Regions from separate parts of the Homo sapiens genome. Here regions 1 and 3 are each linked to region 2. The links come from fine-mapping of genetic effects on gene expression. A gene starts in region 2. Each other region holds a variant in brackets. All regions are shown on one strand. Distances are from middle to middle.

Region 1 (10,781 bases), 140 kb before region 2:
TAGCTGCCCCCTTTTACCTCCCCAGGTGGGCTACATGTATCCCCACCACCACCCTTCATCACCCTCAGAATCACATCCCTGCTCACACACCTGCAATGCCTCTTCCATCTGGCAAACGCTTGACAATGCTACTAGGCCCTCTTTGAATGTCCTGACTTCTGGACCTCCCATGACATCTCTCATCACCACCTACCAGAGAACCAACAAGAGCACTTCTTTCCTTCATTTGTTTAGTAAACAATTATTAAGCCTCTACTATGTCCCAGATGCTGTCAACACAGGAGAACACAACATGGATGCAACCTCTGCCCTCATGGAGCCAGTGGATTAGAGACACAATACACATAATAAATAAGATGGTTCCTTCAATTCATGTTTTCAAGGAAATAAACAAGAAGCTGAGAGCAAATAATGCAGTTTAAAGTACAGAAGCTGCTATAAAGGGGGTGACAGAAGAAGCCTCTGAGGAAAGGACATTTCAGCGGACACTGAAGATGGAAAGGAACAGGCTGTGCGTGGTACAGTGGGAGGAGCGGTCCAGACAGAGCGGGAAGTTTGTGCAGACAGAAGATCAGGGAACAAGGGGGACAGGGACCCCTGTGTGAGGGGAGGGGAGCACATGGTCTTGGGAAGGAGGTGGGTAGAAGTCTCTGCCCGGGTGCACTCATCCTTTGGCATTTGCCTCTCCCTTGGCAGGTCTTTCATATTCACCTCATTGGTTTACTGCCCTGGCCTCCACACTGAGTATGAGCCCTTCCAGGGCAGGGCTGCGTCGCATCCTGTGTGCATCCTTGCCCATTCGATGAGTCACAAGTAGACAAGCTGCCTATTGGGCCCTGAATACCTGAGTAGGTTTCATACCTGCCTGGCCTATCCCCTCTCCCTCCCTTCCAAAGGTAAACCAGAAGTCCCTGCTGGCCCCTCCTGTAGGAGAAGGGGATGCAGAGCCAAGTGGCTGGAGGAACTGGCCTGACTTTCATCCTGAGATAACCCTGGTACCTGAGACACAAAGTCCACAGGCTTGGAACTGCTGCAGACTCTGGGTGCTTTTCCAGCTGCTGGTGATACCAGGGGTTCTCAGCAAGGCTGAGCACCTTTTATGGACTCCCCCTGTCTTGCATGCCTGCCTGGAACTTGTGATCAGTTTCTGTCCATTGTTTAGAAAGTGTTACCATATATAATAGCTGCTAAGAACAAAAAATGACATGTGCTCATCAACATAGGATTAGATGTGTGGCAACCAGCATTGATCAGATACACACTTTCCATTTCAGTTCACCACGTGTTTCGGTGTCAGGCACAGGGTTGCCAAGAACAATGTGGCCCCTACCTTAGAGAGACTATGGTCTGGTGGAAAAAAAAAAAAACAAAAAACCAAACAGATTTGTGAACAATTAAATCGTAGAAAATATTTTATTTTATTTGCTATGATGTAGACTTCAGTTCAGCTTACAGATAATCAATTTTACCTGGGGAGGAAAGGAAGAGTAGGGGATATTGGAAAGGTTTCCATGCAGGAGAAAGTGAGTTCACATCAACCAAGCAGGCAGGAGAGAAAAGGCCCTTCAGGGAGAGGGAGCAGTGTGAGCAAAGAAACAGGAAATGGTATGTTTGTTGCATTAACTGTAAGAATATTTGACAAGGTTTGAGAGTCAGAGGCCAGGGGCAGCAGTCAGGCTACGGAGGGATTTGTGTGCTGGGCTCAGGAGCTTGGGCTTGATCCCACTGGCATAGGGAGCACCGCTGAAGAGCTTTAGGTAGGAAAGGGGGTGGTAAGGTCATATTTACCTCAGGGAGAGATTGCTGGACTGGCAGTGTGGAGACTGGAGGAGAAGAGTTCAACTCAGGAGGCCAGGCAATTAGTCCTGGCACAAGTGAGAACTGTCACTGGGCGTAGCCAGGGGCTGGGAAAGAGGGAAGATTCTAGAGGCCTGAAGGAGTTGGAGTCAGCAGGACTGAATGCTGCATTGGAGATGGAGAAAGAGGAGAAGTGAGGGGTTAAGGCCAGGCTGTCAGGGTTCTCCTGCAGGAGACAGTGAAAACTTTCATGAGGCAGAATGTAGAGGAAGGAGCAGATTTGGCATCCAGTTTGGACAGCTTGAGTTGGTCATACTCAGCAGCAGACTTAGATCCTGGCAAGGGGTCTCTTCCATAGGCCCCACATTTTGGGGGCTCCATTCTAGCCCTTCCTGGGTCATACCACTTTCCATGAGCAAGACAAGTTAGTGGGACCATGGAGACGGGCCCACCTCGATCCAGCAAGGCCTTCTTCTAGAACTTGCTCCAGGTAACAAGCCTGGGGGTGCCCAGTCCAATGACCCCAGCCTGTAGCTTCTTCCCGGGTGTGTCCTCTGAAAGATGGCCCACATTTCTGATGTGAACTCCCCAGCTTCCAGCAGTGGCCAAGTGGCAGTTTTCTGGTGGGGTGTGGAAATGCAGCTTGGATGTGCAGCCTGGGTTGTCCACATATGTACATGTGTGCAACTCCTCTTGCAGTGGGACAGAGTAGGGGTTTGGAAGATAAGAGGTCTCCATTTATCTCCCACAAATATGAGGGACAGACCTGGAGACAACCTGCAGGGTTATCTGAAATCTTCTCTTTTCCAGACTAATTATAGTATCAGCCCCCTACCTTACCTAAGCTGATCTGACTCCATTTCCAGACCCCTCATTGTCCTGTTACCCTCCTTTGAATTGACTCTAAATTTTACGTAATGAGGAGGCATACAGATAGCTTCTGTATGAACTCTACAGTCAGGGATAACCGGAGTATGTGGATTCAGTTCCACTTGCTGCATCCCCAAAGGCACTGATGGAGGCAGAGGTGACTCCAGGATACCTTAGCGGGTGGGAGAGATGGGAGCTACCTGGGGAAGGGTTTGGAGCTGGCAAGATGTAATTCAGAGGAGCAGATAATGAGAAAAGGATGGAGAGAAAGGCGTAAAGGCATTCAGGACTTGCCTTTCATAGGATTCCAATAAAGACAAAGGAAGGGTCTGCTTTGCTTTCAAGCCTGTGGTCCTCACCCAGACTCCCCTGCAGGGGCTCCCCTTTGTCTCTTTCATGAAAGCCAGTAGGTCTCCTTCACCCTTTTTCTCTGCTCTGATTACAACACAGAGCCTTCTCTTTGGGAGCAATAGCCATCTGGATTATCTTCTCTTCGTCTGGCCACCTCATCAACTCATCATCTTTTTAATAATCTCATCTGAAAACATATCCTTTCTCATTTGCTTCTTAATTTCCCCATTGTCCAGTGACTTTTCTCTCTCTCCCTTTCTCTGAAACCTTATTCTTATTACTTTATAGAACACTGGGGGATAGATTGCCCAGAAAATATGTACTATAAAGTAAATGCATATGGTGATATCTATGAATTGCCCAGATCCAGTCCATCTGTGCAATGTCACAGGCCCAGCTGTTTACTTGTGCACAGTGCAATTGCAATGGCTTTATGACATGGGCACTGGCTTACAAGCTACTCTGGTGCTGGTCAGGAGCTTCATGTGCACAGTTAACCTTAGATCACTGTGATTAATCAGAGTGCAGCCATGGTAGATCACAGGCTAGTCCCCTGGCAAGGCCAGCAGGAGCACTCCTCCAGCCTGAGCAAGCGGGGAGCAGATTTTAATTCCAGGCTGTTAGGTGCTGCCTGACATTGGTGTCCCTGTGGTGTTTCATAAGCCCTGACAGTTCCTCACCATTGTTTTAGGGAAAGCAGGCACTCCTCTCACTTTACCACCCCATTGCCTTCCCTGGAAATGAACACTTTCTCCCCACTTTGAATCTTGTGCCAGAAGGAAGGAGGGGAAATGACTGCACATTCCAAAAAGGTCAAAGATGGTCTGAAAGCAAAGGATGCACGCGTCTGCATCATTTCCAACAGCCCTTTGCAGTTCCTTTTAATTAGCTCAGTTTATGTTCCCCTCAGGTGGGGAGAAGCCCAGGATCACTCTGTCAACAGTTCTATCTATAGCAGAACCCCCATCCTTCACCCCGGCGTCTCCACTTGCACAACACTCGCTGACCCCGAGACTCAGCTGTGAGAATCAATCATCTCCTTCCAGAATTCATCATTCAGCAGCTGCGGGGCCTCAGCTATTTTTATCACCGCAGGAAGCTGGTGGCCAAGGACGTGCTGGGCTACCTTTGCAGGAGGTGTTGCTGTAGAAATGAGCTGTGGGTTGTCAGGGCAGCTGAGCCTCTGCCTCAAGGTTAAATCCAAAGTGCCTGACCTGGAACAGGAGAGCACTTGATCTTCTTCCATTCTGCAGCAAAGTGCCCCAGAGGCATATGCTGGGGAAGCAGATGTCCCAAGGAGGGGACACTGTGGAAGGACTCCGGATGGGAGGGAGAGGCAAACAGAGTGGACATGTGTGAACATGTACCTGGGTTTCTCCTACCCAGACTGGGAAATGGGATATCTTAACCCTAGGCAGCTGGCTTCAATCACCTGCACAGTACCAGCCAAGGAATTCCCACTTTGCTGTGTTCCCACCAACCACCAACCCTTGTGGGGCGCCTTCTATGTACCAGACCCTGGACTGGGGCTGAGGCTCCAGGATCTGCCCTGGAGTTGTCTCGAGTCTAGAGGAGAGGACAAATCAGACGCAGTATCACCAAACCCTGATGGCCACTTGCTCCAGTCACCCCAGGTCCTTTGCTGTGTTCCAGGGGAGGAAGCCATGGGGTGTAACAGCAGGTAACTCGGAAGGATTTTCTATTTGTAAATGTTCATCCGATACTCTAAACAAGCTCCTTCAGCACAGGCCTCTGAGATAAGGCAGTATTTTTAGTTTATTTAGAAATCATCTGGCTTGTTAGCTGTGCACATGTGTGCTTTGCTCACAAAGTGGGAAAAGCAGAACTCACTAGCATCCTAACAGAGAGAAGAGGGAAAGATGTCCCCGATTCCCTGGACATCTCTCATTTCAGAAAAGGAAAGGGGGGTAGTACTCGAGGCTCTGCTGCTGTGAGCCTCTGTAGCCTTTAGGAAGGGGGAAAGTGACCCTATATTCTCTGCTGGAGGGATGGGGGGATGGGGAAATGGAGGCTGTTCATCTCTTCCAAACTCCAACTGTTATAGGAAAGCGGTCCCAATCCAGATCCCAAGAGAGGGTTCTTGGATCTCACGCAAGAAAGAATCAGGGCAAGTCTGTAAAGTGAAAGCAAGTTTATTAAGAAAGTAAAGGAACGAAAGAATGGCTACTCCATAGACAGAGCAGTCCTGAGGGCTGCTGGTTGCCCATTTTTATGGTTCTTTCTTGATAATATGCTAAACAAGGGGTGGATTATTCATGCCTCCCCTTTTTAGACCATATAGGGTAACTTCCTGATGTTGCCATGGCATTGGTAAACTGTCATAGCACTGGTGGGAGTGTAGCAGTGAGGATGACCAGAGATCACTCTCTTGGCCATCTTGGTTTTGGTGGGGTTTAGCTGGCTTCTTTACTACAACCTGTTTTATCAGCAGGGTCTTTATGGCAGGGTCTTTAT[G/T]TGCTGACCTCCTATCTCATCCTGTGACTTAGAATGCCTTAACCATCTGGGAATGCAGCCCAGGAGGTCTCAGCCTCATTTTACCCAGCTCCTATTTAAGATGGAGTTCCTCTGGTTCAAACACCTCTGACACAATGACATAGAGAGAAATGAGTCTGGGTGGGTCCAGAAGTCCAGTTCCCTACTGAGCAGGGGAGAAGGCCAGTTTGCCCACCGCCAACCACATCTGCTGAGGACAAGCTAGGGGTATTTGCTGAGGGGTGCCTACCCAAGGGGCCCTTCCTGGTTATAGAGGTGGAATGAGAGCTACCCCAGGGAAAGTTGCAGGGCTTGGGGGAAGAATTTGCTTTGAGCACTGGAGCCAGTGGGAGCCAGGCTACGGAGAAGCACCGGAGGTCCTGGGAGGTTTATCAACTGCCCCAGGGCCCTGGAGTCCCCCAAGGCCAAAAGCTCCCTCACACCCTGGGCTCTCTGTGGCTGTGACTCTGACCAGATATTTTACTGACCTAAAATAGTCTCTTCCACAGACAATGTCAAGTTAGCAAACTGTTTAAAGAATAAAGTCACTCAACACTCTCATTTAGAGCTTCAGAGTGTGCAAATTGACATAACCTTTCTGGAGGACAATTTGGCAATTAGTATGGGACCTTAGAAATATTCACACTCCTCGAGCTAATAATTTCTGCTTTGTAAATTTCCCCAAAGCAAAGAATATCCAAAAATAGTGGAATGGAGAAATGAATGATGGTGCATCTTTTTGATGAAATCCAGTGCTGCTAAATATTTAATGATATGGGAAAGTGCTAAAAGTGTAACGCTCAATTTAAAAAGGCAGAATAAAGAATGTATGTAGAGTATGATCTCAAGATTTTTGTTATTGTAACAGTTGCTATAAGAACGGTCCTTATTTAAACAAAGTCCTTTATAAGCAACTTCCTTGCATTAGAAGGAAGACCATAGGGGAGGGGGGCAAAGAAACAGAAGAGATGCTTTGGGGGCCGCTGGTGGGGAGGGCTGGGGGAGGGGCATGGAACCAAGGGGGAAGCCAGGAGCCTGGAGGTGTGAGTCTGAGGCCTCCCAGGGTGAAGAAGTCACAGATACTCTGCCTGGTAGCTGCCTGGAGGACACAAAGATGCCTGGTGTTTTGGCTGCTACTGTGGTTTCAAACTAACTCCAACTCCACCCCCTCCTAAAATTTTCAGTGAAGTCCACCCCATCAATAATTGATCTGTGTGAGTGCAGATTTAGGGTAGAAACCCAGGGTAAGACGTACTCTCCATCTGTGTTCATGAAAAACGGAACAACACCAGGAAATTAGCTATAGAAATCCATGCTTGGGGGCAGGGGTGATCCTGAGGACTGAAGACCCCATGGAATTTCCAGAAGGCTTGGGGAGGACTTTAGACTTCTAGAGGGCATGGAACAGGGTTGAGCCTCTCCAACAGTGTGAGAGGCTGGGGAATCCTTACTGATATCCAACATGGGTATAAATGGGCATATAGGCATATACAGATACAGGGCTGGAGGAACAGTGCCAGTACCCCGTGGCACTCCCTGGCAGTGGGATTATGGTGATATTTATTTTCCTTTTTATATAGCTTAGAATTTCAAATTCTTGTAAAACAAACACCGATTTTATAATTTTTTTTTAAGAGTCAAAGTTTCACTCTGTTGCCCAGGCTGGAGTGCAGTGACACAATCATAGCTCACTGTAACCTTGGACTCTTGAGCTTAGGTGATCCTCCCACCTCAGCCTCCCAAGTAGATGGGACTACAGGTGTGTACCAGCATGCCTGGCTAATTTTTTTATTTAGCCATGTCGAGACAGGGTTTTGCCATGTTGCCCAGGCTGGTCTCTAACTCCTGGGCTCAAGGGAACCTCCCACCTTGGCCACCCAAAGCACTGGGATTACAGCCATGAGCCACCGTACCCAGCCAGATTTTATAATTTTTTAAAAACTAATAAATGTAGATACAAAGCACTGCCATTCCATGTTGCTTGTAGAGTCTGTTTCTGCCTCTGGGTTGGTGAGAAGACTGTGGGCCCAGATCCTGCCATGGACTCAGACTCTTCATGTAACTGAGGTCAGTGCTGGGATCCAGGGGCCCTGCCCACTCACTAACACACCAGAGATCACATGAGATCCCCAAGATGGAACTCAAAGACATATTGGACACCTTCCTGTCTGGGCTGCAGCCTGGAGCATGCTATGGGTCCCAGAACAGGGTCCATGAAGAGGAATGTATTTCCCTGCAAATTGAGGCACGGTTGCAGTTGCTGGAAGGACATAATCAACGATGGCATCCTGGTTTCTCTGCCTCCCTTTGAGCTTCTCTGTTTATGCACATCTCCTAAAGGCTTGCAAGTCAAATGCCATTTCTTGCTGGTTTTTGTCTTTGAGTATCTTTCCTCTCCTAAAATAGAGCAGAAGCCTACAATGCAGGGTTAGTTTTCTTTCCTCCCTTCTTTTGTTGAAGGGAAATTCTGCACATAATACATAGAGAAGAAAATACAATCAACCCATACGATCATTGTGCTTTTGGGTGGACAAGGCAAATATTTCTGTCTTCGATGACAATACATATTTGTAATATCACACTTGGAGCTTTTCTGCCGTTGCCTATGTGGGGATCTGAAAGTGTTTTCTACTCAGCCATTCATCTTCAAACCATCTTTCAGGAAAAAGACAGGAAATTGAGAAAAATTATTTGCAGGCTTATTTTTCTGAATGATGCCCTCAAACGTTTTTTGACTGTGGCCCAACTCAGGCTTGGCAGAGGTCCCCACAGCCATCTCCCTCTGCCTGCCCCCTCTTTCCAGAAGAAAAACAAAACTCAGTGATAATAAAGAATATTAGAGGAACAGACAAGAACCTCTTATTTACTTTATAAAAATATTGTAAACATTATATACATGACTTTATGCTATATTGTTCCTTATTACTCATTTTGCATAGTTTATTATAATTATTTAACATAAATATTTTTATGTTGTATTCTATTTTATAATGCAAAACAATATTTTAAAAGAAGTTTCGTAATGCTTAATGTTTCTTGGTAGGATTCAAGTAAATAGCCTTTGGTAGGGCTTAATAATGTTTACAGCATTGGGCATGGTTTGCACATAAGATCTTGGCATTTGAGATTTCGTAATCCCTGCTCAGCCCTTCTAAGGAAGGAAACCGCCTCTCATATTTTCTTTTGCCTATTTGCCTAATTTCTCCCTCAAAGAAAAGAAAAAGTAGGAGTTAAAGAAAAGGCAGAAGTGAAATTCAATAGTCAAACAACCCGGCACCACACCCCAGGCCTGGTAGTTAAAGATCAACCCCTGACCTAATCGCTTATGTTATATATAGATTCCAGACATTGTATGAGGAAACATTGTGTAACTCCCTGTTCGGTTCTGTTCTGTTCTGACCACCGGTGCAGACAGCCCCCGTCACGTAGTCCCCACTTGCACAATGTATCACGACCCTTTCATGTGGACCCCTTAGAGTTGTAAGCCCTTAAAAGGGACAGGAATCTTGACTTCAGGGAGCTTGGTTCTTGAGATATGAGTCTACCAATGCTCCCAGCTAATTAAAGCCTCTTCCTTCCTAAAACTGGTATCCGAGAGGTTTTGTCTGTGACTGGTCCTGCTACATTTCTTAGTTCACGCTACATTTCTTAGTTCCCTGACCGGGAAGTGAGGTGATTAACGGATGGTCAAGGCAGCCCCTTAGGCAGCTTAGGCCTGTCCTGTGGAGCATCCCTGTGGGGGACTCCAGCCCTGTGACACGGATCCTGAGAGCACTCCCAGTAGGCCATCGCCCAGGTGGAATGCTTTGCCAGAGCAGTGCGCGGCAGACCCCCATGGAGGATTAACACAGCGGCTGAACACTGGGAAGGAATCCGTGCTTGGAGTCCTGACATCTGGAACATGGTAAGACCGGTCTTGGAACTTGCCCACTCCATCTGAGTGGAAGCATGGCCTGATCACCCACGGTGTGCCGTTATCAGCACTTTGGTTTTGGTTTTGATTTTGACTGGATTTGAAATGTTTTGGTTTTGATTTCAGTTCTGACTTTTGGATTTGAACTGTTTTGGCTTTGATTTCGGTTCTGACTCGGCTCAAATTGCTTGATGAATGAGTAACTCCTTATCCGTCCTTTGGTTTTAGATTTAATTTTGATCTGGTGTGAATTGGTTGGTGAGTGAGTGACTTTTTGCCCCTTTTCCCTTCCCTCTTTGTGGTAAGAGTGTTGTTTTGTCTGCTGAGAGAGGAAAATGGGTAAAACACAGAATAAGCCTACTCCGTTAGGAACTGTGTTAAAGAATTTCAAGAAAGGATCCAATGGGGACTATGGAATTGCTATGACACCTGGAAAGCTTAAGGCTTTGTGTGAGATAGATTGGCCGGCATTAGAGGTGGGATGGCCATCAGAAGGAAGTCTAGACAAGTCCCTAGTTTCAAAGGTATGGCACAAAGTAACTGGTAAATCAGGACACCCAGATCAGTTTCCATACATAGATACTTGGTTGCAGTGAGTTTTAGACCCCCCACAGTGGTTGAGAGGACAGGCAGCAGCAGTGTTAGTGGCAAAGGGACAGATAGCCAAGAGGGGGATCTCGTTCCACCCGCTGAGAGAAGTCAGCTCCTAAGGTTCTGTCTGACCCAACATCACAGGATGCATGGCAGGCAGTGGCACCAGTGGTGCCCCCCCTTACCGAGAAGAGAGACTCCCCACTCCTGAGCCCACAGCACCTGAGCCTCCACAGGACACACACACCCCTAGACCACCCAGAGTAGACAAGAGAGGAAAGAGAGAGAGAGGCAAAGAGGCAAAGAGAGAGAAAAAGAGAGAGAGAACAAGAGACAGAGAGACAAAGAAGGAGTGAAAGACAGAGAGAGAAAGAGAGGCAGAGAGAGAGGAAGAGACAAAGACAACAGGAAAGTCAGAGAGAGAGACAGAAAGTCAAAGACAGAAAGAAAGAAAGAGATATACAAATAGTTAAAACAACAACAACAGTTTACCCTATTCGTTTAAAAGCCAAGGTAAATTTAGAAACTTTAATTGATAATTAAAGGTCTTCTCTGAGACCCTACAACACTCCAATACTACCTTGTTGTCAGTGTAAACAAGGGTGTAGCCCGAAAGCACTGAGGCCACTGACAATCCGTAGCCTTCCTGTAAAAATCCTTAATCCAGTACCCCTTGGATGGCCTAAATACATTCAATCTGTAGCGGCAACAGCTTTGCTAACAGAAGAAAGTAGAAAAATAACTTTTAGAGGAAACCTCATTGTGA
Region 2 (10,781 bases):
TGAGGCTTAGAGCTCTCTGTGTATAAAAAGATCTATGAGTATTTCTGATGATGGACAGGTTTTAGGAAAACAAACTAGAGCAGTGGCTTCAGAATTATTCTGAAGAGTCTTAAAATTCTTAAGAAACATCACTGGGCTTCACTCACCTGTTTCAGCACAGAATAGTCTCACTGATATAGTTTGGTTTGTCAGACCCCTCCAAATCTCATGTTGAAATCAGATCCCCAGTGTTGGAGGTAGGGCCAAAGGGGAGGTGTTTGGGCCCTGGGGCCAGATCCCTCATGAATGGCTTGGTGCCTTCCTTGGGGTAATGAGTGAGTTTTCACTTTTATTAGTTTCATGAGAGCTGGTTGTTAAAAAGAACCTGGCATGCCCCTCCTCTCTCGCTTCCTCTCTTGCCATGTGATCTCTGCATATCCTAGCTCCCCTTCACCTTCCACAATGAATGAAAGCAGCCTGAGCCCCTTACTAGATGCAGATGGAGCAGAAAAGCCCCTCATAAGAAGGGCCATGCTTCTTGCAGAGCCTGTAGAACTATGAGCAAAATAAACCTCTTTTATTTATAAATTATGCAGCCTCAGGTATTCTTTTATAGAAACACTAAATGAATTAAGAAATCCATTTTTATCTATTTTGTGTATCTACTTTTCTTCTTAAAATCTGAACATCACAAGGCCAGATAAAGCAAAACGAACTCATCCATATAAGAATTAAACCCATGATTTTGGCATCAAAGCTGACCTAATCCAAAGACAAAAGAGACTAGACAGATAAAAAGACCAGGACTGATGAACATAGAATATTTGTTAATGACAAAAGGAAAATCTTAGAAAAGCACTTCTATAATTCATATACTTTTATTTACTGGATCCTAAAAGAACTTATTCAATACATGACTGAATTGCATAATAAAATTCCAAATGGGAAAAAGTATATACACAAATATATTGAATTAACTGCACATACTTATTTCTCTTAGGAAAAAACTACCCTATTCTAGACTTGCAATTAAAAATACAAAATGTGTCTAAATAAATTAAAGCTTTGTGACCTTACTTCCTACAATCCTAATTCTGCCATCCCTACCTCTGACTAGCAGGCAGATGGGGGCAGGGAAGGCAACAGTAGCTCTGAGAAGGTGTTCTCTCCTTGAGAAAATGATTTCTCCATAAGCATAAGGTTTGGATCCTTTGAACACCTTTTAGACCCTCCCATGATCTACTCTACTCCAGAAAATTAGGTTGTGTTGTGGAGGAAAGCAGGTAAAAATGCTAATTACCTCCTCCCATCCTGTGCTTGGATATTCCCCCACAGTATTGGGTCTGTATATCCTGGTTTTTCAAATTCTCCATTCCGATCACCCTATCTAATAAAAATGTATGCTCACTGGATATTAGATTTGAGACATCCAGTTCTATATGTAGATACAAACTCAAGAGACTCCTTTATTAAATGAAGCAGCATAACATTTTTACTCACCTGTCTGAATACACATACTAAGCAGAAGATGGACTGAGTAAGAAGCCAGGAGAGCAACTGTCAGCAGCAAGAAGCTAAAACATAAAAGAACACCTGGTCAAAACCTCCCAAAAGTTTGTCTTTTGTATGGTGTCTCATTACAAAAACAAATTGCTTAACAGTCAAATATTCACAGGAACTATCTCTGAGTAGCAGAATTATGTTCATTAAGGAAATTAAGAAGATACTTTTCTACTTTTTTGTATTTACCAATTTTATTTAAATGAAAATATACTGATTTTAAAATAAAAAAAAATAAAAACCAAACTTTTTTAAAAATACAAGCAAACTTCCTCATTTTGCAGTCTTGTCTGCTGACTGCTGAATCAGCCATTAAATAATCTTGTAATATTTCCTTTTTATGACTGGTTTTCTTCTTATTTTAAGTCTAAACAGAAGTTTTACTTATGCAATCTCATTGTCTTCTCTTTTTCCCTTCCTCCCTCTACTTCCAGTGATATTGACCTCCTTATCATACCTTCATCTTATTAAGGTGTACTTAAGATTTATTTAGGCTGTATTTTCTAGCATCTATTAAACGCACACACTCTCCAAACCAAACTAAATTAAAATAATGTAGTTAACACACCTCTAATGATGCAATTTGAAAAATGTGCAAACAATGTAATGATTGAGGTCCTCTCACCAACAGTGTGAAAGAAAAAACTTAGATAATTTCCTATTCATTTTTAGGAAGACACCAGCAGGACAAGCTTCTATACAGCTATCCCCAGTGAACTGCCCCAGTCATTGAAGAAATTTTCTCTCTGTGGTCCAGTTAATACTTGTTAATAAATAAAATTGAGAGGTAAAAGTACAAATGTCATTAAACTGACATCAGGAACTTCACAAAATAACACTTTAGCATCACCAAAAATGATGGTTGCTATGACTGGGTGAGCACACATTCAGCAGTATATATCTGCATGTAAGACCCTGGTGCATAAATTATGATTTTTCAAAGAGAATCAAAAAAAAAGTCCTCTGACTATGTCTTGCTTAAGGTGTCACATATAGTTTTTAATTTTAAAAATAATGAAAGTTTGTGAGTACATTCCATAATAAAAGCAAGTTGGGTTACTTAAAAGTTGCTTTGCTTATCAAAAAATTTGGAATAAAAGCAGGAAATAAACATAAAAGAGACTCCCTAGGCATTTTAAATTTCCTAGTAAATAGATCTGCTTCTACTGACAAAGCCAATTTGTTAATTCATTCTATTAGCCATGTGGTGCTAGATGCTAAGAATAAGGTCCAGTTATAAAGGATTTTTCTATTTTTTAAATTTTTTAGACAGGATCTCACTCTGTCACCCAGGCTAGAGTGCAGTAGCCCAATCATGGCTCACTGCAGCCTCAACCTCTCAGGCTCAAGCAGTCCTCCCAAGTAGCTAGGACTACAGGCGCACTCCACCATACCAGGCTAATTTTTGTATTTTGGGCAGAGATGGGGTTTCACCATCTTGCCCAGGTTGGTCTCAAACTCGTGGGTTCCAGTGATCCGCCTGCCTTGACCTCCAGTTGTAAAGGATTTCAGTTTAGTGGGAACATTAATTTCCAAACATATCATTGTAACAATTATAATAACAGAATGAATATACAAAGTACTATGAAAGCACAGAATATCCAGGATTGTCTTCTATTTTGGGCAAACTGGCCTACAAGCTAAGTCCTGAAACATAAAAAAGAACAGGCACAAAACACATGTCTGGCCTCTGAAAGTGAAATAAGACTACTTAACAATACAAAGAGACAGCGAGGAATGAAAAGATTATGTGTTGTATTTGCACTCACAAAATTGCTATTTGGAAGTTAATCTGCATGGCTTTGATTCACTTTGGCCAAGGAGATACAATGAATATGCCACTCTTAAGTGTCATATTTCATTATAAATGAAATGTGGATCAAGTTCCCATTTTTAAAAACTAGTCACACTTCTGTGTATTTAAGAAGCTATGTAGTAGCCCTCCAAGGTACACACTAGCAACAAGAATAACAAGAAAAATGCTAAAACCCCAGAAATAACTAACTAGAAATTGTATAATAGCAGCTTCTGGAATCTATCTCTCTACTTCTCCGTATATTATCAAAATGGAAAAAAAAATTTGATGCTAAAATATGAAGACTCACCTAAATCCAAAGACACCGGTATTAGCCAAAACATAAGCTAAGCCAAGGATGCCACTTCCCATGATGGCATTCATCAAATTAAACACTGATAAACCAAATGAAACACCTGGGGATCGCTGTCTGTGAAGTTCCTGTAAGCACACAAATTTAGTAGTGTTAAATGTTTGGACGGTGAAGTTAAAATTTCGTAAAGAAATTCCATAAATGAAAGATTATGGAAAAAAGCTGCAAACCACCAGGGTTTGTATGACACACTCGTTGCTTAACCAACACTAATTTCCTTTCCTTTCCTTCCCACCTCCCACTACTGCAGCTCCAGGAATCTAGGGTTTCTTAGGAAAATGATTTCCACCAGTACACAAGACAGGCAGAGTTCAGGAAGGGCCATGACTAACCTTGTGACTGCAAGAGATGAAGATAGGATGGGAATGGAGTGGGGAGAGAGAGGAGGGATAAGGCCTCAGCTCATGTGATTACTAAAGAATTGCTGAGTCAACCTGGGACTGCTGTGGGCAGTTGTTTCTCCTCAATTACTAGGACTGCACAACTAATCTCTACTTATATATCTAATGAATTAGTTCTACCAAACTGGAAGGATGGTCAGGAATATCTTGCAATGACAATATTATAAACAGAAGCAATTCACGTTGTTCTGGCAGTATCCCTGAAAACATCCCCCTCCCCACAAACAGCACCGGGAACAAAGTCCTGGGAACAGTGTCTAGGACTCGAGTTAAAAAGCGGAGTGCCCACTGCACAGGCTTTAGGGTCAGGAACGTGCTATGCACTTACTACCAAGCCACTTCCATTCTACCGCTAAGAATTTCTGTATTAAAATGTTTATTATTTTCCCTCCCCCCATGACTAAGTCGGAAGAGGAAAATCCTGTGACTCTTGCAAAGACCTCACGAGACTGGTGGAGAAAATAAGGTGACAAAAATACTAACTAACAGCAGTGAGTACATAATCCTAGGGCCGCTCATCCCATCATGTTCGCAGCTTCCACTCAACGCTGCATCTCTTCCACCCGACGCTTTTCATCTTTTCTTTCTAGAGTATGCTAGGCTGCTATCACGTTCATAACTGCGCCAATCTCATCTGAATCTCGGCGGCTGCCTTCAGACCCCATCCCCCAGGGTTCAGGCTCCAGCATCTCCCCTGTCCCGGTGCGGTCCTCCTTTTCTGGGTCTTATTTGGCAGGCACTTGAGGGAAGCCGGAGGGCGTCAGCGCGGGGAAGCGAACACAGCCCACTTACGTTGCTTAGCAACGGACTCAACTCTTCGGCCTCCGCTTCTTCAGGCTGCTGGACAGAGACATACCAGCCCCGCTCAGCGTTGAAGCTCCCCCAGGACGCCTCCATGCTGCTCTCCAGCTGACTACCAGTTCCATCTACGAGCCTCTACCCCTGCCCTGCGCTCCAGTCGTCGGTCGCGCCAGAGGCGGAGCTTTGAGCCCGGCCCTTCCGGCATTCCGTACTTCACCAGGGCCTGGAAGGAGAGGAGCGAGTCGACTTGATCTGATGACGCGCGCCCTCTTCGCGGCGAACAGTGATGATGTCATAGAAGACCCGCCCATCCACCCGCGACCCACATCCGATCGGTACCGGAGCGGGAGGTGAGGGGTCGGCTCGCGGATCCAGCTGCAGAGCGACGTGGGGAATTGGAATGGTGCTTTGGTGAGGTGGCGGCCGCGTTAGGGGCTAATGGTCCAGGGGAGGTACCAGCCCGCCCAGGGCTGCTCTCTGCCATGTGCTGCCTGGGCACAGAAACATCGCGAGGTCACCCACCCGCCTAGGTGCTGAGCTTAGTTTCGAGGTTCTGGATAGTAAGGAATGTTTCAAAAGCCTTTCGCCACATTTTACTGGTGGGAAAACCGAGACTTATAGTAATTTATCCAGGGTCACCCAGCTGGTCAGCTGCTAGAACCAATTTGATCTCTGACGGTGAAGTTAGACTTCGTTGCTTTACAGGATTCTGGGACAGGGCCCTTTCCCCTTACAAGTAAATTCTTTGGTATTTTAGAAGACAGTGAATAACTGATACTATGCATATAACAATCAGCAAAGCTCTCGTCCTCAAAATACAGAAGCCTCTAGTTAAAGGCAGGACATGTGGCAGTAAAGCATCGAAAACAAACAACAGAGCAATATATTAAGAACACAAGCACCGAAGTCAGTCAAAACTAGGTTTTAATCCATGTTTAGCCACTTATCAGCTGGGAGACTTTGGGTGGGTTACCTTACGTCTGAGCTTTAGTTTACTTATTTACAAAATGAGGGTGCAATACTGCACACCTCCCAAGATTCATAATGTACATAAAGCATTTAGCGCAGTATCTGACACAATAAGCACCCATGAGACTATCCTAATAAATATCACCACTAGTAATGGTCATGTATAATGACTATTTCATTTACAGATGACCATTTAACTCATACTTCAGTCTTCCAATCCCAAATGTATTATCTAGAAAATTGTGGGTGAAGAGGATCATTGAGTATGGCTAATGGATCACTAAGCCCTCTGAACTGGGAGCAGATGGGTTGAAGGTGTAAATTTAATATATACCACTATTATCTACCACTAATACGACTTCCTGAAGAAGTCATCCTAGTCTGGAAAAGATAGTATACTTCCCACACATCACTAAACGTTTTATTTGTCAGCATTTAGCCCGTTATTTGAGATAGTAGAATTTAGATTTTTATTCTCAAAAGCTGTCGTGTGTGAATTTTTTTTTTTTTTTTTTAAGGATCTTATGGAGGCCATTTGGATTCTCAGGAAGATTTCTGAAACTGGAAAGCCATAGCATAACTGAATCAAAATCGTTGATTCCAGTAGCTTGGACATCCCTGACACAGATGCTTTTGGAAGCACCTGGTATTTTCTTATTGGGTCAAAGAAAAAGATTCTCAACCATGCCAGAAACAGAAACACATGAGAGAGAGACTGAATTGTTTTCACCACCTTCTGATGTCCGAGGCATGACAAAACTTGATAGAACAGCTTTTAAAAAGACAGTCAACATTCCAGTGCTTAAAGTGAGGAAAGAAATAGTCAGTAAATTGATGCGATCCCTAAAAAGGGCAGCATTGCAGCGCCCAGGCATAAGACGTGTGATTGAAGATCCGGAAGATAAAGAAAGTAGACTAATCATGTTGGATCCCTATAAAATATTTACTCATGATTCCTTTGAGAAAGCAGAACTCAGTGTTTTAGAGCAGCTTAATGTCAGTCCACAGATCTCTAAATACAATTTGGAACTAACATATGAACACTTTAAGTCAGAAGAAATCTTGAGAGCTGTGCTTCCTGAAGGTCAAGATGTAACTTCAGGGTTTAGCAGGATTGGACATATTGCACACCTAAACCTTCGAGATCATCAGCTGCCTTTCAAACATTTAATTGGTACGTGTGTCATAGTAATATTCATGTATTTGAAGGGAATTTGCAAATTGTTAATTTTAGCTTTAAAAATTATTTTTTTTAATGCCAAGTTACAGAGGCAGAACATTTTATCATGTTAACTTTAAGCTAGATCTTGAGCTACATACCCTCTTTTGAGGGCCATTTTGAAATATCTTCTTTAGTCATAGCAAGTTCCAAATACTGGTCCAGGCTTTTGTGTACAACAATACATCAGTGTAGATTAAACTTGAATCACATGCTTTGGCAGCTACATTGAGGAGAGATCTTTTTGGTACACAAGACTTGTTAGGCCTTCAGGGCTATGTTAAATACTAGGTTTCATAAATTTGGGTACTTTATAGTCAAAAGTGCAAGATGTTTACTTATGCTTTCATTGATTCAACCAATTGAGCCTCTTCTATATGTCAAGCACCATACTGTCCTGTTACACATTTCTTTTGTTTTTATTGATGAAGGGAGTAATAATGGATAGTGGTAACATAAATACTTAAGCAGATCCTTGTAATTGTGACTGGGTACAAATGTCAAGTCTAGGCTTTCCTGTGAGTCACTGCCTACCCTAACTCAAACATTCCTCTGGCATTCCTATTTTATAAACTTTCTTTCATAGAGGCACTCATACATTAAAAGTGAAACATTTTCATACAGTAGTAATTTTAAAGCTTTTACTATAGACCTTCAGAATAGTTTTTAAAAATTTATAAATTTCATTCCTCATTTCAAACTAAATTCTGTACCTTAAAAGTTGAGTTCAGATACATGAAGCAGAAAGGGTAAGAACAATGATTAATTCGTTTATTGATACTATATTAAAAAACAAGTATCTGATTATCAGAAATGGGACAAATGCTGGTTGTATTTCAGGATATTGTATAATTGGGTACTGTGTGCTGATTTACAAATCAAGTTATGCAATGAGATAGCATATAGATTTTTATAACTTTTTTAAAGTGCTAACTAAAAAAATAGATTCATCAAATGGCCATGAGTATGCCAGTTCTGTAGCTTTTTTTGCTCTGAAGTAAATGAACATTTAATTTAGATAGGACTGTAAATAATCTATGTTTCTTTTTTTTTGGAAACATTGTTTTGCTGGCATATATTTCTAAAGTGGGGGCATTTGTTCCAAAGCCATAGTAAAACAGACATTTGGCTTGAGGCCAGTGGAACCGGCAGATGTTTTACTGTTTTCTGAGGCCATTTGTTGCCAGGGTCCTTTACATCTCTTTCCATTCTTTCCCAATTCCTTGTGATCTACCTTTTTGGTTCCTTGTTTATTGGTTCATTTGAAAAGATTTAGTAAAACATGGAAAAAACATTAGGTAGACCCAAACTCCTCAAAACGTTTTCTTTAAAAATGTACCCAACATTTTGTGTGTGCATATTAGCAACCGTCAGACATTAACTTTAGTCATCTGTTGAATTTTTTAAATTGCATGCCACATTACACACAGTAGGTGCAGTCTTTATCAACCAAAAGAAATACAACTCATTTCTGTTTCATATTAACAATGTTAGCTTTTATTTTGCAACCAATAGGCAGTATTATGGATTTTCATTTTTTCTTTTAGGCCAGGTTATGATTGACAAAAATCCAGGAATCACCTCAGCAGTAAATAAAATAAATAATATTGACAATATGTACCGAAATTTCCAAATGGAAGTGCTATCTGGAGAGCAGAACATGATGACAAAGGTATATTTTATTATCTCCAAGTAAGGTGTATATCAATATTATGTTTAGAGTCAGAATAGATGACAAAGATTTAAAATACTTGTAACATCCAGTGTTGGTGAGTATGTGAGAATGTGATCACTTATGTATGCTATTGATGGAATAACACTGATAAAGCCTTTTCAGAAGAATTGGTTAAATTCTCATATAGTGATACAATGGAATATTTCCATCATTAAAGGTTTTTTAGCTCCATATTTGTTAAAATAAGTTGTCCATCGATAGGTTGACAATGGACAATTGCCAGAAAGCAATATAAGTGACAAAAAGCAAGTTATAGAACAGTATGTATAAAATAGTTCTCGAGATATATTTAAACCTTCTAGGTTATACCCAGAAAGACTTTTAGTTGGCAGAAATTTGCAGAAACATTTCCACCTCTGTAACCTTAATAATTTGGCCGGAAGCATCTGATATGGTTGGGAGAAGGAAAAAAAATATACATACAAATTGGGAATTAAGGTCCTGGAAAGCAGAAGATGGAAGATGTATCTATCTATGAGATTTATAGAACTTATGAACTTTCTGGCCTTTGATTCTTCATGCATAAATTAATGAGTTTAAGATGATGGCTGAGGTCATACTTCATGACTGTAACTTAAGTTTTATTTTCTGTTTTTTAAGGTGTCTACTACAATAGACCCAAAAGAAACGTTAAAAAGTCTTTTGTTCAAGAATTAGCTTCACTGTATATATTTAGTTTACCCATGAAAACTCAAATTTGGGAAAGAGAATCTGGGAATGATTCATTCTATACACTGGCTCTAATTTATAGACATCAAATTTGCAAAGTTCAAGTAGCTGTCGAAAAACATAGTAAAATACCTCAAAATTGAGTGACACATCTACCATGGCTCCCTTTTACAAACACAAAACTAAATAAGGAGGGAAGCTTGTTTGCTGCATAGAAGTACTGTCTGCAACTTGGCTACCCAGCATGAAGATATGGGTGGTGTGTTGTTTCAAAATTGTAGGTCTTGCCTTGTCTATCTGGTGACATAAGAGTATAATTAAGCCAGTTAATTGGCCTGTCTGAAAAATTCCTCATGTGATATGGTAACTACTTTATGGCCATGGCCCTATAGGATTGAGATGGAGAGCCATTTGGCTTTAAAGAGATGACTTTTTCTCACGAATAAGTCTAATGCAGTATATTAACTGGCCTTAGGAATAGCATAAACACCAGGAGTCTAATTAAAATGCCTTTAAATGCACTGTTGTTTGGCTCTTACAGTAGTAAACTTAAATGTGTATGTGTTTGCCTGTGTGTATACACAACCTATCCAATATCAATGGTTAGGATTTAGGACCAAGGAAATTAACCAAAAAGCATAACACCTTTTTTCAGGTTCGAGAAAACAACTACACCTATGAATTTGATTTTTCAAAAGTCTATTGGAATCCTCGTCTGTCTACAGAACACAGCCGTATCACAGAACTTCTCAAACCTGGGGATGTCCTATTTGATGTTTTTGCTGGGGTTGGGCCCTTTGCCATTCCAGTAGCAAAGAAAAACTGCACTGTATTTGCCAATGATCTCAATCCTGAATCTCATAAATGGCTGTTGTACAACTGTAAATTAAATAAAGTGGACCAAAAGGTGAAAGTCTTCAACTTGGATGGGAAAGACTTCCTCCAAGGACCAGTCAAAGAAGAGTTAATGCAGCTGCTGGGTCTGTCAAAAGAAAGAAAACCCTCTGTGCACGTTGTCATGAACTTGCCAGCAAAAGCTATAGAGTTTCTTAGTGCTTTCAAGTGGCTTTTAGATGGGCAGCCATGCAGCAGTGAGTTCCTTCCCATAGTGCATTGTTATAGCTTTTCCAAAGATGCTAACCCTGCTGAGGATGTTCGGCAAAGGGCTGGAGCTGTGTTAGGCATTTCTCTGGAGGCATGCAGTTCAGTTCACCTGGTAAGAAATGTGGCCCCAAACAAGGAAATGCTGTGCATCACGTTTCAGATTCCTGCCTCTGTCC
Region 3 (10,781 bases), 110 kb before region 2:
AGAAGACATTTATGCAGCCAACAGACATGAAAAAATGCTCATCATCACTGGCCATCAGAGAAATGCAAATCAAAACCACCATGAGATACCATCTCACACCAGTTAGAATGGCGATCATTAAAAAGTCAGGAAACAACAGGTGCTGGAGAGGATGTGGAGAAATAGGAACACTTTTACACTGTTGGTGGGACTGTAAACTAGTTCAACCATTGTGGAAGGCAGTGTGGCGATTCCTCAAGGATCTAGAACTAGAAATACCATTTGACCCAGCCATCCCATTACTGGGTATATACCCAAAGGAATATAAATCATGCTGATATAAAGACACATGCACACATATGTTTATTGAGGCACTATTCACAATAGCAAAGACTTGGAACCAACCCAAATGTCCATCAGTGATATACTGGATTAAGAAAATGTGGCACATATACACCATGGAATACTATGCAGCCATAAAAAAGGATGAGTTCATGTCCTTTGTAGGGACATGGATGAAGCTGGAAACCATCATTCTGAGCAAACTATTGCAAGGACAGAAAACCAAACACCGCATGTTCTCACTCATACGTGAGAGGTGAACAATGACAACACTTGGACACAGGATGGGGAACAGCACACACTGGGGCCTGTCTTTGGGTGGGGGGTGGGGGGAGGGATAGCATTAGGAGATATACCTAATGTAAATGATGAGTTAATGGGTGCAGCACACCAACATGGCACATGTATACATATGTAACAAACCTGCACATTGTGCACATGTACTCTAGAACTTAAAGTATAATAAATAAATAAATAAAAGGTCTTATTTTAAGTGATGAATGATGCCTCCTAACAGAACAACCAGCAGAACACTAATTAATGCATAGGCTTCTTGGCTGGTCTCTCTTATAAACATTAGCCCAAGTTCTGCTTTCAGCCACCACACATCTCTCTCTCCTGTGGTTCCAAATCATGTAAGTGATCCTTCTGCTAATAAACTCTCTTTGGCCTTGGGCTGGGCACACTGAGTCCTGGCACCCACTCCCTGGATGTCCCCATAGGGACATGTTCTATATGCAAAAATGGTGACGATGAAAAAGGGCTGGGACTTCATGGATTTTGGTTTGGTGAGCTGTTACCACTCCTCTGGCTTCTCCTGACAGAGCCTTCACTTAGCAGATCATCACATTTCACCCTTCAGAGCATGAGACTTGTACTAATGCTGCAGCACTACCCAGCAGGGAGCCAGCTTTCCCATGGTCACTGGATGTGTGTGGTGTTCCACAGAGCCAGGGCTGCGCCAAGATCTTCAGCTCCAAGTAAAATCTTGGAGACCTTTGCCTTAAATGGTAATTACTCTGGCAAAGGTCCTTTATACCTTGCTCTAAATGTTATCCCACCCAAAGTAGAAAATGACTTGTGGAAAGTCTTTCTTGTTTTAAAAAATAGCTATAGCTATAGTAAGGGCATAGCAGCTTTAGAAATGGAACACGTATATTTTTTATAGGCCATTATGAAATAAACTTGCAGTAACTAATTCTTTCTCACACCCATTTGCCTCTTTCAGAGACCCTGCAGGATTTAACATCCCAAACCAAATATACTGTTATGTGTTCCCAAACTATTTTTTCTCAGGGCTAAAGGGAAATTCCCATGAAGTGCTATTTTTCCAGAATGTAGCCCCCTGTCAATGCCAAAGAGAATACTTTAAAAATGATATTTCTCAATATTAGGGCACATTATGGATACAAAATCTTAGCCCAAATCCCCTTGGTCATATAAAACATGTCACATAATTGTATTTTCGGTTAGGAAGGAGTGTTACAAAATAAATATTTCCCCATTAGAACATACTGGGAAATGTTTGCTGACACCTACACTCAAACCCAGCAGGTTCCCTTGGAAGAGTTTGGCAAAGAACAGGCCCCTCCTTAATGAGGTGCTGGAGTTGGTTGAAAATTCAATATTAATTTACAAAAAATGGTTGCATTTAAGAAGTCAAAACTGAGGCCTGCTTGTGGGCGTCTGTGCCTTCTGCATTCTGGGTCTGTGAAATATCCTGGGTCAACCGAGGATCACTGTCCTTGATTGGATTGCATCAGTCTTTCTCTTTCTAAAGCAGTCTGTGGAAAACATCAAGAAGGGTTTTGTTTTGTTTTCTCAGAATTTTTTTTCCTTTCTCTATTTCTCCTACTGGAAAATTCTTACCACAATTGTTGATGGTTGTTTCATTTGATTTTAAGAGATGCATGGCCGCAAGGGCCGTGGGAGTACAAATCAATAGCTGTGATCACTGCTGGATCCTCTTGGAGGGTTTTCCCCTTTTTTGCCTGTAGCACACAATCTACATAGTCCTTGAGGGGAGCCTTACCTGGCCTGGTTCGGGCTTTTCTCTAGCTGCCAGATTGAAGTGTGACAACCACAGAGGTGGCTGTGGGGCTTTTGCTCCTCTCCTCTTGTCCCCAGAAGATTTAGAGTCCGCATTCTCAGCTACTCGGGTGCTCTCAGTTCCAGATCCAGTCATTTCCCCTCTAGCTCCCCTGTTCTTAACAGAGTCCCTCTCCATACTCACTCACTCACTGACTCACTTAATTCACACAATACTTTGTCTAGATCTGTGACCTTAATTTGTAAGTGCAGTGATGGTTGCACATTAGTTATTATGCTGGTCCTTCCAACACAAACTGCATACATTTTCATCCTCTAAGGTCCTAGAACTATTTTTCTGCACTCTAATGCTGGAATTTCAAGACACCAAAACAAAACAGGTGGGATTTAGAGGCAGGCTGGCCTTGGAGGTGGTCTTTCAATCACAATCCGCTCTGACTGCTCTATTCAGATCTTGGGAATGAAGTTTCGACAACATCTGGGACTGAAGTCAGTTTACATATTTTGATACCATGTCAATCCAAAAGGAATTCTTTTGGAGGTGTTTGGGTTTGAGGTACTTGAGCAAATGATTCTAAAGTATATTTAAGAGAACAGATATGTGAGAATAGCCAAGAAAATTTTTAAAAAGAGAATAAGGGCAGGGTCCATGCTTGATTAGCTATGAAAACACAGGAGTTCCCCTCCTGCTTACTATAAAGAAAGCTTAAAATAGTGTCTCTCCCACCCTAACAACAACAATAAAGTCAGATGACCAAAAACCCATACCTTTTCTTGAGTCCACCAGAAAGCTGAGATCACACGGAACCCAAAAGCCTGAAATCTAAGGAAAGGCTGCGTCCCCAAGAAGAGATGTGGCTGAGTATGGGAAGAAACACTGGGTGCCATACAAAAACATAAAAAGAATTCATCTAAAGCTTTTAACAAATTACTAAAGGCCAGAAGCAGACTAGCATGAGTGTAGCACCCCTGGGGGCTGCAGACACAAGAGGAATTGGTGCCCACTTGCAGGCTCTTCTCCACTCCCTTCCACCTACTGATTGAGAAAGGACTGAAGGCAGGGTGGGAGAGCAAAGAAGCCTCCCTGCACAGTGCAGGCCCAGGAAAGAGGGGCAACATTGCTGAAGGAAAGGCATAAGGCTACAGCCACACCCTCCTCCCACCTAAGCCACTGGGGAGGGACAGTACAGCCTGTTGCAGTCAGGGCACAGGTGAAGACCTACTGCAGCTTGGGGAAGGGGAAAGCCAAAACACCCTTGATCCCTGGGGAACGGGCAAGAAACAGTCCTGAGCCCCAGATCCAGACATTCTCTCCTGCACATGACACAAGGCAGGGTTCAGCTGCCACAGGAGGAGGAGGAGGAGGGGCAGGATTTCTGAGAAAGCCTTACTCCTAAGATCCAGGCATACAGGGCCTGCCAAAGCCTGAGAGTGTACTAGGATCAAGCGCACCCCTGACTCCCCAGCACTAAGTAACAAGCAACAACATTCTACCCCAAGGCTGAAGACTTCTCATTAAATATTAAAACTTCTGAAATCTTGAAATTGTTTAATTAATTGAGTAATTTAGCCCTAGCATAGATTAAGGAGACATTAAGAAAAGTTCAGAAATACAGAGTTCACAAATTCAAACATACTTAAGAATTTAGTAACTCTGAAGAAAATGTTAGCTAGTACCTCGTACCTTAAAACAAAATTAGTTCTATATGATTATTTTATTAAAAAAAAACACATAAGAGTACCAGTAAAAAATGTAAATACTGTTACCATTTTGGGACGGGAAAGTTATTTTGAAGTATCAACCAAAGACAGAAACTATAAAGCATTGTTTAATAGACTATATACAAATGGGGAAAAAATTCAGAATAGAATAAACAAAGCAAAAACACAAATAAAAATTGGGGGAAAATAGCAATATACATGGCCATTATACCTTAATATATATGATGTATAGATCCACAGATGTTAGACAGATAGATGCCTTAATATAAAAGGAGAATCATTTGAACCTGGGAGGTGGAGGTTGCAATGAGCTGAGATCATGCCACTGCACTCCAGCCTGGGTGACAGACAGAGACTCCATCTCAAAAAAAAAATTATATATATATACACACACACACACACATATATATATATATATATATATATATATA[TATAC/C]ATACACACACACATATATATATATACACACATATATATATATATACTTATATATATAAATATAAATAAAATTATGAGCTCTTATAAATTAAATAAAAAGTATGTTCCTTTCCCTCAAAAGAATTATGAACAAAAGACAATAGCAGTCACTCACAAAGCAATAATCACAAACAGCTAACAAATATTTACAAAGTCACTGAACATAAGTAATAACTCAAAAATTTCACAAAGATAATAATCTAAGTTGGTAGTATGCCTGGAAATCAACATTGTCATAAAGGCATATGACTGATGGTAGTATAAATTGTCACAAGTTTTTTGAGGGAGAGGTTAAGAAATTTGGCAGTATGAATCAAAAACCTGAAAAACGTACCTACCCTTTGATATAGCAATTCTACATCTAGAACTTTAAGGAAATAATTAGTTAAAATCCAAAAGATTTATATGTATAGATATGCATAGCAGTGTTGTTTATTATAAATAAATGTTAGAAGCAACCTAAATGTCCAGTCATGGGAGATTGGTTAAACAGATTACAATAAATCCCTATAAGTTAATGCCAGGCAATAATTAAAATGATTAAATAGAGCAACATCATGGACATGGAAAAATGTTGACAGTATATATGTTTAAGTAATAAAGTAACAGGACAATATAAGCAGTATAATGCCATTCCCATTTTTTAATACATACACACACACACACATGCGCGCATGCACACACACACACACATTGTTGATAACAACAGAAGGAATAAACTCTGGATATCAGGTAGAAAATAGCCTTATTAGAAGGTAGCTTATAGACTCAACAATAAGGCTGGTGAACTAGGGTCGGCAACAGGGCAGGAACAAAGGGTGGTGAGGCAACCAAGAACACAGCCAGCTCATATCATGGTCCAGCCTGGTAGTGTTATAAACAAAATCCCACCATCCCCGGACACAAACCTCTGCATTGAGGGACTCCTGATTCAGCTGTCCTCATGAGAAATCTCCAACAGCCACCTGTATAATTTCATTACTTCCTTGAAATTTGAGCCCAGCATGGGAGCACCTGATCGGTCAAGACTCAGTCATATAGTTATACCTCCCATGAAATAGAGAGAAGAAATATCTATCTGGTCCCTTTAGCTTGCTGGTAAAGACATATATTTTGAGATTCTCCTCCAATACTGATAATGTTTGAATGCTGGATAGTCAGAAAGCAAGAATGATAACTCCATAAATACACACACAAACACAAACACACACACAAACACACACACATGGAAAACTGGACATTCATAACATGTCATGATTAAGAATTCACATATTAATTAGGTCGGGTTTTTTGGTGATGGTTTGGGATTTTTTTTTTTTTTTACATAAACAATCCTATTGTCAGTGAGTAGGGACTATTTCATTTTTTTCATTTCCAATCTGTATGTTCTATATTTCTTTTTATTGCCTTATTGCACTGGCTAGGCCTTTCAGTAAAATGTTGAACAGGAGTGGTATGAGAGGATATTCTTATCTCCTAATATTAGGAGAAAACATTCAGTCTTTCAGCATTAGGTATAATATTAGCTGTAGGGTTGTTTTTTGTTTTCATTTTTTTAGATGCCCTTTATCAGCTTGAGGAAATTTCCAATTCCTATTTTGCTGAGAATAACTATCATGAATGAATGCTGACTTTTGTCAAATGCCTTTTCTGCATAAATTAATATAATCATGCAGCTTTTCTTCTTTACGCTGTTAATATAATGGAATAATTATTTTATTATTTAAAAATTAATTTAAAAAATCAAACTTGCTTTCCCAGCATAACCCATTTGTTCATGTTGTATTCTTCTTTTCATAATTTCTAATATTTTGTTGAGTATTTCTGCATCAATGCTCATGAGAGATACTGGTCTATAGGTTTCGAAACTGTCTTTATCTGCCTTGATATCAGGGTAATGCTGGCTTCATAAAATGAATTGAGATGTTACCCCCTCTTTTATTTTCTAGAATATATCGTATATAATTAGTGATAGTTCCTCTTTAAATGTCTGGTAGAATTTTCCATTGAAATATCTAGACCTATTCTTGTTTGTTAACTGTTGAATATTTCAGAGGCTTATAAGTACAATTCAATTTCTTTAATATATATCACTATTAAAATTGTATATTTCTTCTGGGGTGAGTTTTGATCATTTGTATCTTTTAAGAAATTAATTCATTCATCTGTGTTGTCCAATGTATGGTCATAGAGTTGTTTATAGCATTCCCTTATTATCTTGTTATTGTCTATGGGATCTGTAGTAGTTTCCCTCTTTCATTCCTGATATTGGTAATTTGTATCTCCTCTATTTTTTGTCAGTCTGGCTAAAGGCTTATCAATTTTATTGATATTTTATAAGAAATAGGTTTTGGTTTTATTGACTTTATTGTTTTTCTGTTTTTCAATTTCATTGACTTCTACTCTTATGAACACTTTTTTATGATTGCATTTTATCTCCATTATTTGATTTATAGTTGAGAAATTTTTTAGTTGTTGTCCTAGCATTTACACAATACATCTTTAATTGATCAGAGTTTACCTTCAAATAATATACTGCTTCATTCATAATGTAAGGATCTTAAAATAATTTCTCCTCAATTCCTCCCTCCCAACCTTTGTATCATTGTTACGATACATTTTACTTTTACCTATCCTATACACACATAATACATTGCTACTATGTTTACTCTTGACAGTCATTTATCTTTTAGGATCATTTAAACATTTTACATGTATCTTAGTTTACCTTCATTTAATCAATTTCCAGCGCTCTTCATATTTTTGTGTCTTTAGTTACGCATTTCTATCTTGTTTCACATTTCTCCTACCTGAAGAACTTCTTTAACATTTCTTCTCAAGTACATTTATTGGCAATACATTCTTAGTTCTTGTTTCTGTATTCCTGCCCCTTCCTTGGGACAGAGAGGTATTTTGTTCTGTTCTTCCCTAAGTTTTGCCAGTAGACTAAAGGAAACAGTATTTTTCCCTTTCTCCTGTAGATTAAGGCTTTTTTTCTAGAAAGGAGAAAGGGTGGGGTTCATGCCCCTTTGCAGTGGCTATTTTCCCTTTCCCCCATACCTGCACTGTGAGGGATTCTTTCTCAGGACTTTGGCCAGTCTTTTCTGGTGGGATACAGTGCCTGGTGGAGTCCATGGAGAAAAGTCTCCAAGAAGGTGCAAACTCCCTCTACATATGCATTCCCCAGGGTCTCCATACTCTCACCAGTCCTCACTCATTCGCCACCAATTCTTTACCTACTCCTGCTGAGTTCTTCTGTTGGCTACATCTGCTCCAGGTAAGCAAGGGCTTGTGTCCCATGCTTCTTCATAGGCCTCCTCCAGTCCTTAGATTTTTAGGCTAATTGGCTGCCCTGTGACCTCAGCTCTCCAAAAAAAGTAGTAAACTTGCAGTTTGTCTGGCTTTTTTTTAAAAGTTTAAGTGACACTCTTCCTAGACCTTCACATGCTGAGATTTTATTCTCTTTTCACCTGTCTAGCCCACAGGGCCATTTCATTCCTCAATAGCTTTTCACACCCACAAGAATGCCTTGTGGTGTAGAATTGGATAGAGATAGTAATAAGCTAACAAAAAAGTGTTCCTATTGCCCTGGAGGCATCATCCTCCCAGGGGAGAACTCTATTTTGTGAAAGGTCAGATGTCCAACTGAGGAATAAGCCTGGTCTCTTGGCCCACTCTGGGAAGGGCCAGTAGCGAGTCTAGCTTGCAGAGAGGGCAAAGACTCTAGCAGCATCCCCATGTTATGTCAGGATTTCCCTCTTTGGAGCTATGGGGACAGTGAAGATTGTGTTTTAGCTTGGGCAGGTGAAAATAACATGGTTGAGAAGCTTCATTTATTGGAAATAGGAATGAGGAGCCAGAAACAGAATCTCATCTTACTGCATACTGTGTACCTATTTAGGTGTCTGAGCTGCTCTGGCCTCCAGATTTGACTTCATTCCCAAACGAAAAGGAAGAAGGGAAAGAGATGCTCCATTCACCGGTTGTATGTATGGGGCCTCTACAGCAGGAGACTGTGAAGTAAAAGTTGAAATTGATTGACTGGTTGTTTATGAAGAGCTAATGAAAACCTGACTGAGAATAGGTTGGTACACGGGTCTCTGTCTCTGCTGCACTGTGGTTTTCAAGGTTTCCTGGACTTGGGAGGAGGGCATAGAAAGTTGCTGGGCAAATCGCACAGTCTCCCCTATGCTAGACTCAGAGCTGCCTTCCCTAGTAAACATCACCATTTTCTTGCCTTCAAAGATTTCAATGCTTTGTGCGTATGTATCAATGAAATTGTTTACAAATACTGCTATAGAAGAGCAACCTTGTTTCCTTACTGGGTTATCGCAGTCCATTCATATCTGCATCCAACATGTTGCCTCAAAATACCCCAAAAAGGCAGCTTTTGTTACCTATGCTTTACGAAGAGGAAAACTGAAGCTCACAGGGAATGATCAGTCCAAAGTCACTCACCTTCTAAGAAAAGGAAATACCCTGGAGTAGCACTAGGGTACCCAGGTGGGTTCACATGATAGGGAGGGACACCGGTAGCAGGGAGACACTTCCAGTGACAGATTTTCTTGCCTTTGTCACTAAAACCTCCTGTTGGCATCTAAGCCTGGATATCCATCAGGGTCCCAACAAGAAACAGATGACTTCCCAAAAGGAAAGCTTACCAGAAGGACTTACACACTGTAATAAGCAACATTTAGGGAAATCCCCATGGAATAGTAAGTACCACTGTATTAGTTTGCTAGAACTGCCACAACAAAATACCACAAACTGGGTGATTAAACAACATCATTTATTTGCTCACAGTTCTGGAGGTTGGGAAGTGCAAGATCAAGGTGTGGACACGTTTGGTTCTCCTGAGGCCTCTTCCCTTGGCTTGTAAACAGTTGCCTTCTTGCTGTGTCCTTGCGTGGCCTTTCCTCTGGGTGCACATCTCCATGGTATCTCTTCCTTTTCTTACAAGAACACCAGTCACATTGAATTAGGGCTTAATGGCCTCATTTTAATTTAATTACTTCTTTAAAGACCCTATCTCCAAATACAGTTGCATTCTGAGGTCCTGGGGATTGGGGCCTCAACCTACGAATTTGGGGTTGGAACACAATTGAGTGCATAACAGCTAATAGCAATGAAGGGGGCTACCACCCTATGACTGAAGGGGCAAGAGGAGGTGGAGGTTTCCAGAACCCAGAACCTGGCAAGCATGGCTACACATGGGGAGGGCCACCTGAGGTGTAGTCTACCCACAGTGGCCTGGCAGGCAGGGAGGAGGCAGCAGACACCTTGACCTCACTTTCCTCCCTCTGTAGGCTCCCACTGGTGCTGCTCTCTGGCTGAACCCAACAGGAAGCCAGGGGCAAGGGAATCCATTGCTACAGTCCACTAGGTGAACCTCTGGGCTCAGAGCAGGAGGAAATGGTAGAGGGCCAAGCTCAAACTATTTGGTGTGGCTTGCAAACCAAACTCTTAAGTTCTGCTCTGAAGTGATGGTGATTTATGAGAGGCACATTTGATTGCCTGGTTTTTTCAATTATTCCCGGATATGTTCAAAGGTGAGAGGACACTGAGAAAACACTGTGTCTATAGGGTCATTCTGAGGAAACACTGTAATAAAACAGCCTTTAGAGATGACTTCCCTAAGGCTAGGGTCAGGAGTCCCTTCCACAGGGCTCCAGTGGACAGCAGAGAAGGCCCCTGTCCTGGAGTGCAGGCAGAGGCAGCTGCATGGACAGAGGCCCAGAGGCATGATCCCTGCAGTCATGAGCAGGATGTGGCGTGGTGACTAGAAAGGGCCTTGAGGAGAGGGGTAGAAACCTAGGGCAGGCCTGACCCTTCTCTACTGTTCATCTGAGCAACGTGGAAGGCACCTACAGGCGTCTGCAGGTGAGTCTCTGCTTCAGTCAAGCAAACAGGAATTAAACTACAATGCTACTACGGGGTAATGAGTGCTGCAGAAGCACACTGAAGGGGCACCTAAGCTCGGCATGAGAGCCCAGCAAAGGGTTCTGGGAGTGAGTACTCCTCTTGGAGGAAAAGTAAGAGGTGGCCAATGAAAAGGAGTGTGCCCTTCACTTGACTAAAACAGAGACTCATGGAACAAGAAAGCCCATTTGCAGAGACCCATCATGGCAACAGGTCTTGGTACAAGTTAAAAAACAAAATCAAAGCAGTCAACAGGACTAAAGACATTCTCTGAATTTCCAGTGAGTAAGTAGGCT

Alleles and levels. Positions count from the first base shown, and alleles are read on the strand shown. Sizes are in standard deviations (SD) of each study's normalised expression. Not every link is listed here.
With allele TATAC in place of C in region 3, the expression in monocytes after LPS of the gene that starts at base 5,038 in region 2 is lower (large effect, 1.2 SD a copy in Fairfax 2014).

The links. PIP is the estimated chance that this variant, and not a neighbour inherited with it, causes the effect.
Region 1: its variant is the best candidate, but not a certain one, in a credible set for the expression of SLC38A6 in whole blood (TOPMed, PIP 0.51).
Region 3: its variant is the best candidate, but not a certain one, in a credible set for the expression of SLC38A6 in monocytes after LPS (Fairfax 2014, PIP 0.67).

Annotation. Positions count from the first base shown.
Region 1 is chr14:61,119,530-61,130,310 of GRCh38, reverse strand. No RefSeq gene overlaps it. Among named protein-coding and RNA genes, the nearest start is that of SLC38A6, 140 kb to the right of the region's middle. RefSeq lists a silencer at 3,666-3,960. The variant G/T (reference allele first, on the strand shown) is at 5,494.
Region 2 is chr14:60,975,502-60,986,282 of GRCh38, reverse strand. It overlaps SLC38A6 (solute carrier family 38 member 6), which reads right to left and starts at 5,038. Exons shown (of 16, transcript NM_153811.3): 1 at 4,901-5,038; 2 at 3,645-3,775; 3 at 1,480-1,553. The coding sequence starts at 5,005. TRMT5 (tRNA methyltransferase 5) reads left to right here and starts at 5,204. Exons shown (of 5, transcript NM_020810.3): 1 at 5,204-5,320; 2 at 6,397-7,052; 3 at 8,645-8,769; 4 at 10,157-10,781. The coding sequence starts at 5,310. RefSeq lists an enhancer at 4,935-5,314 and a silencer at 8,218-8,512.
Region 3 is chr14:61,082,287-61,093,067 of GRCh38, reverse strand. It overlaps a transcript of SLC38A6 not described here. Among named protein-coding and RNA genes, the nearest start is that of SLC38A6, 110 kb to the right of the region's middle. RefSeq lists enhancers at 2,339-2,478, 3,542-4,043. The variant TATAC/C (reference allele first, on the strand shown) is at 4,524.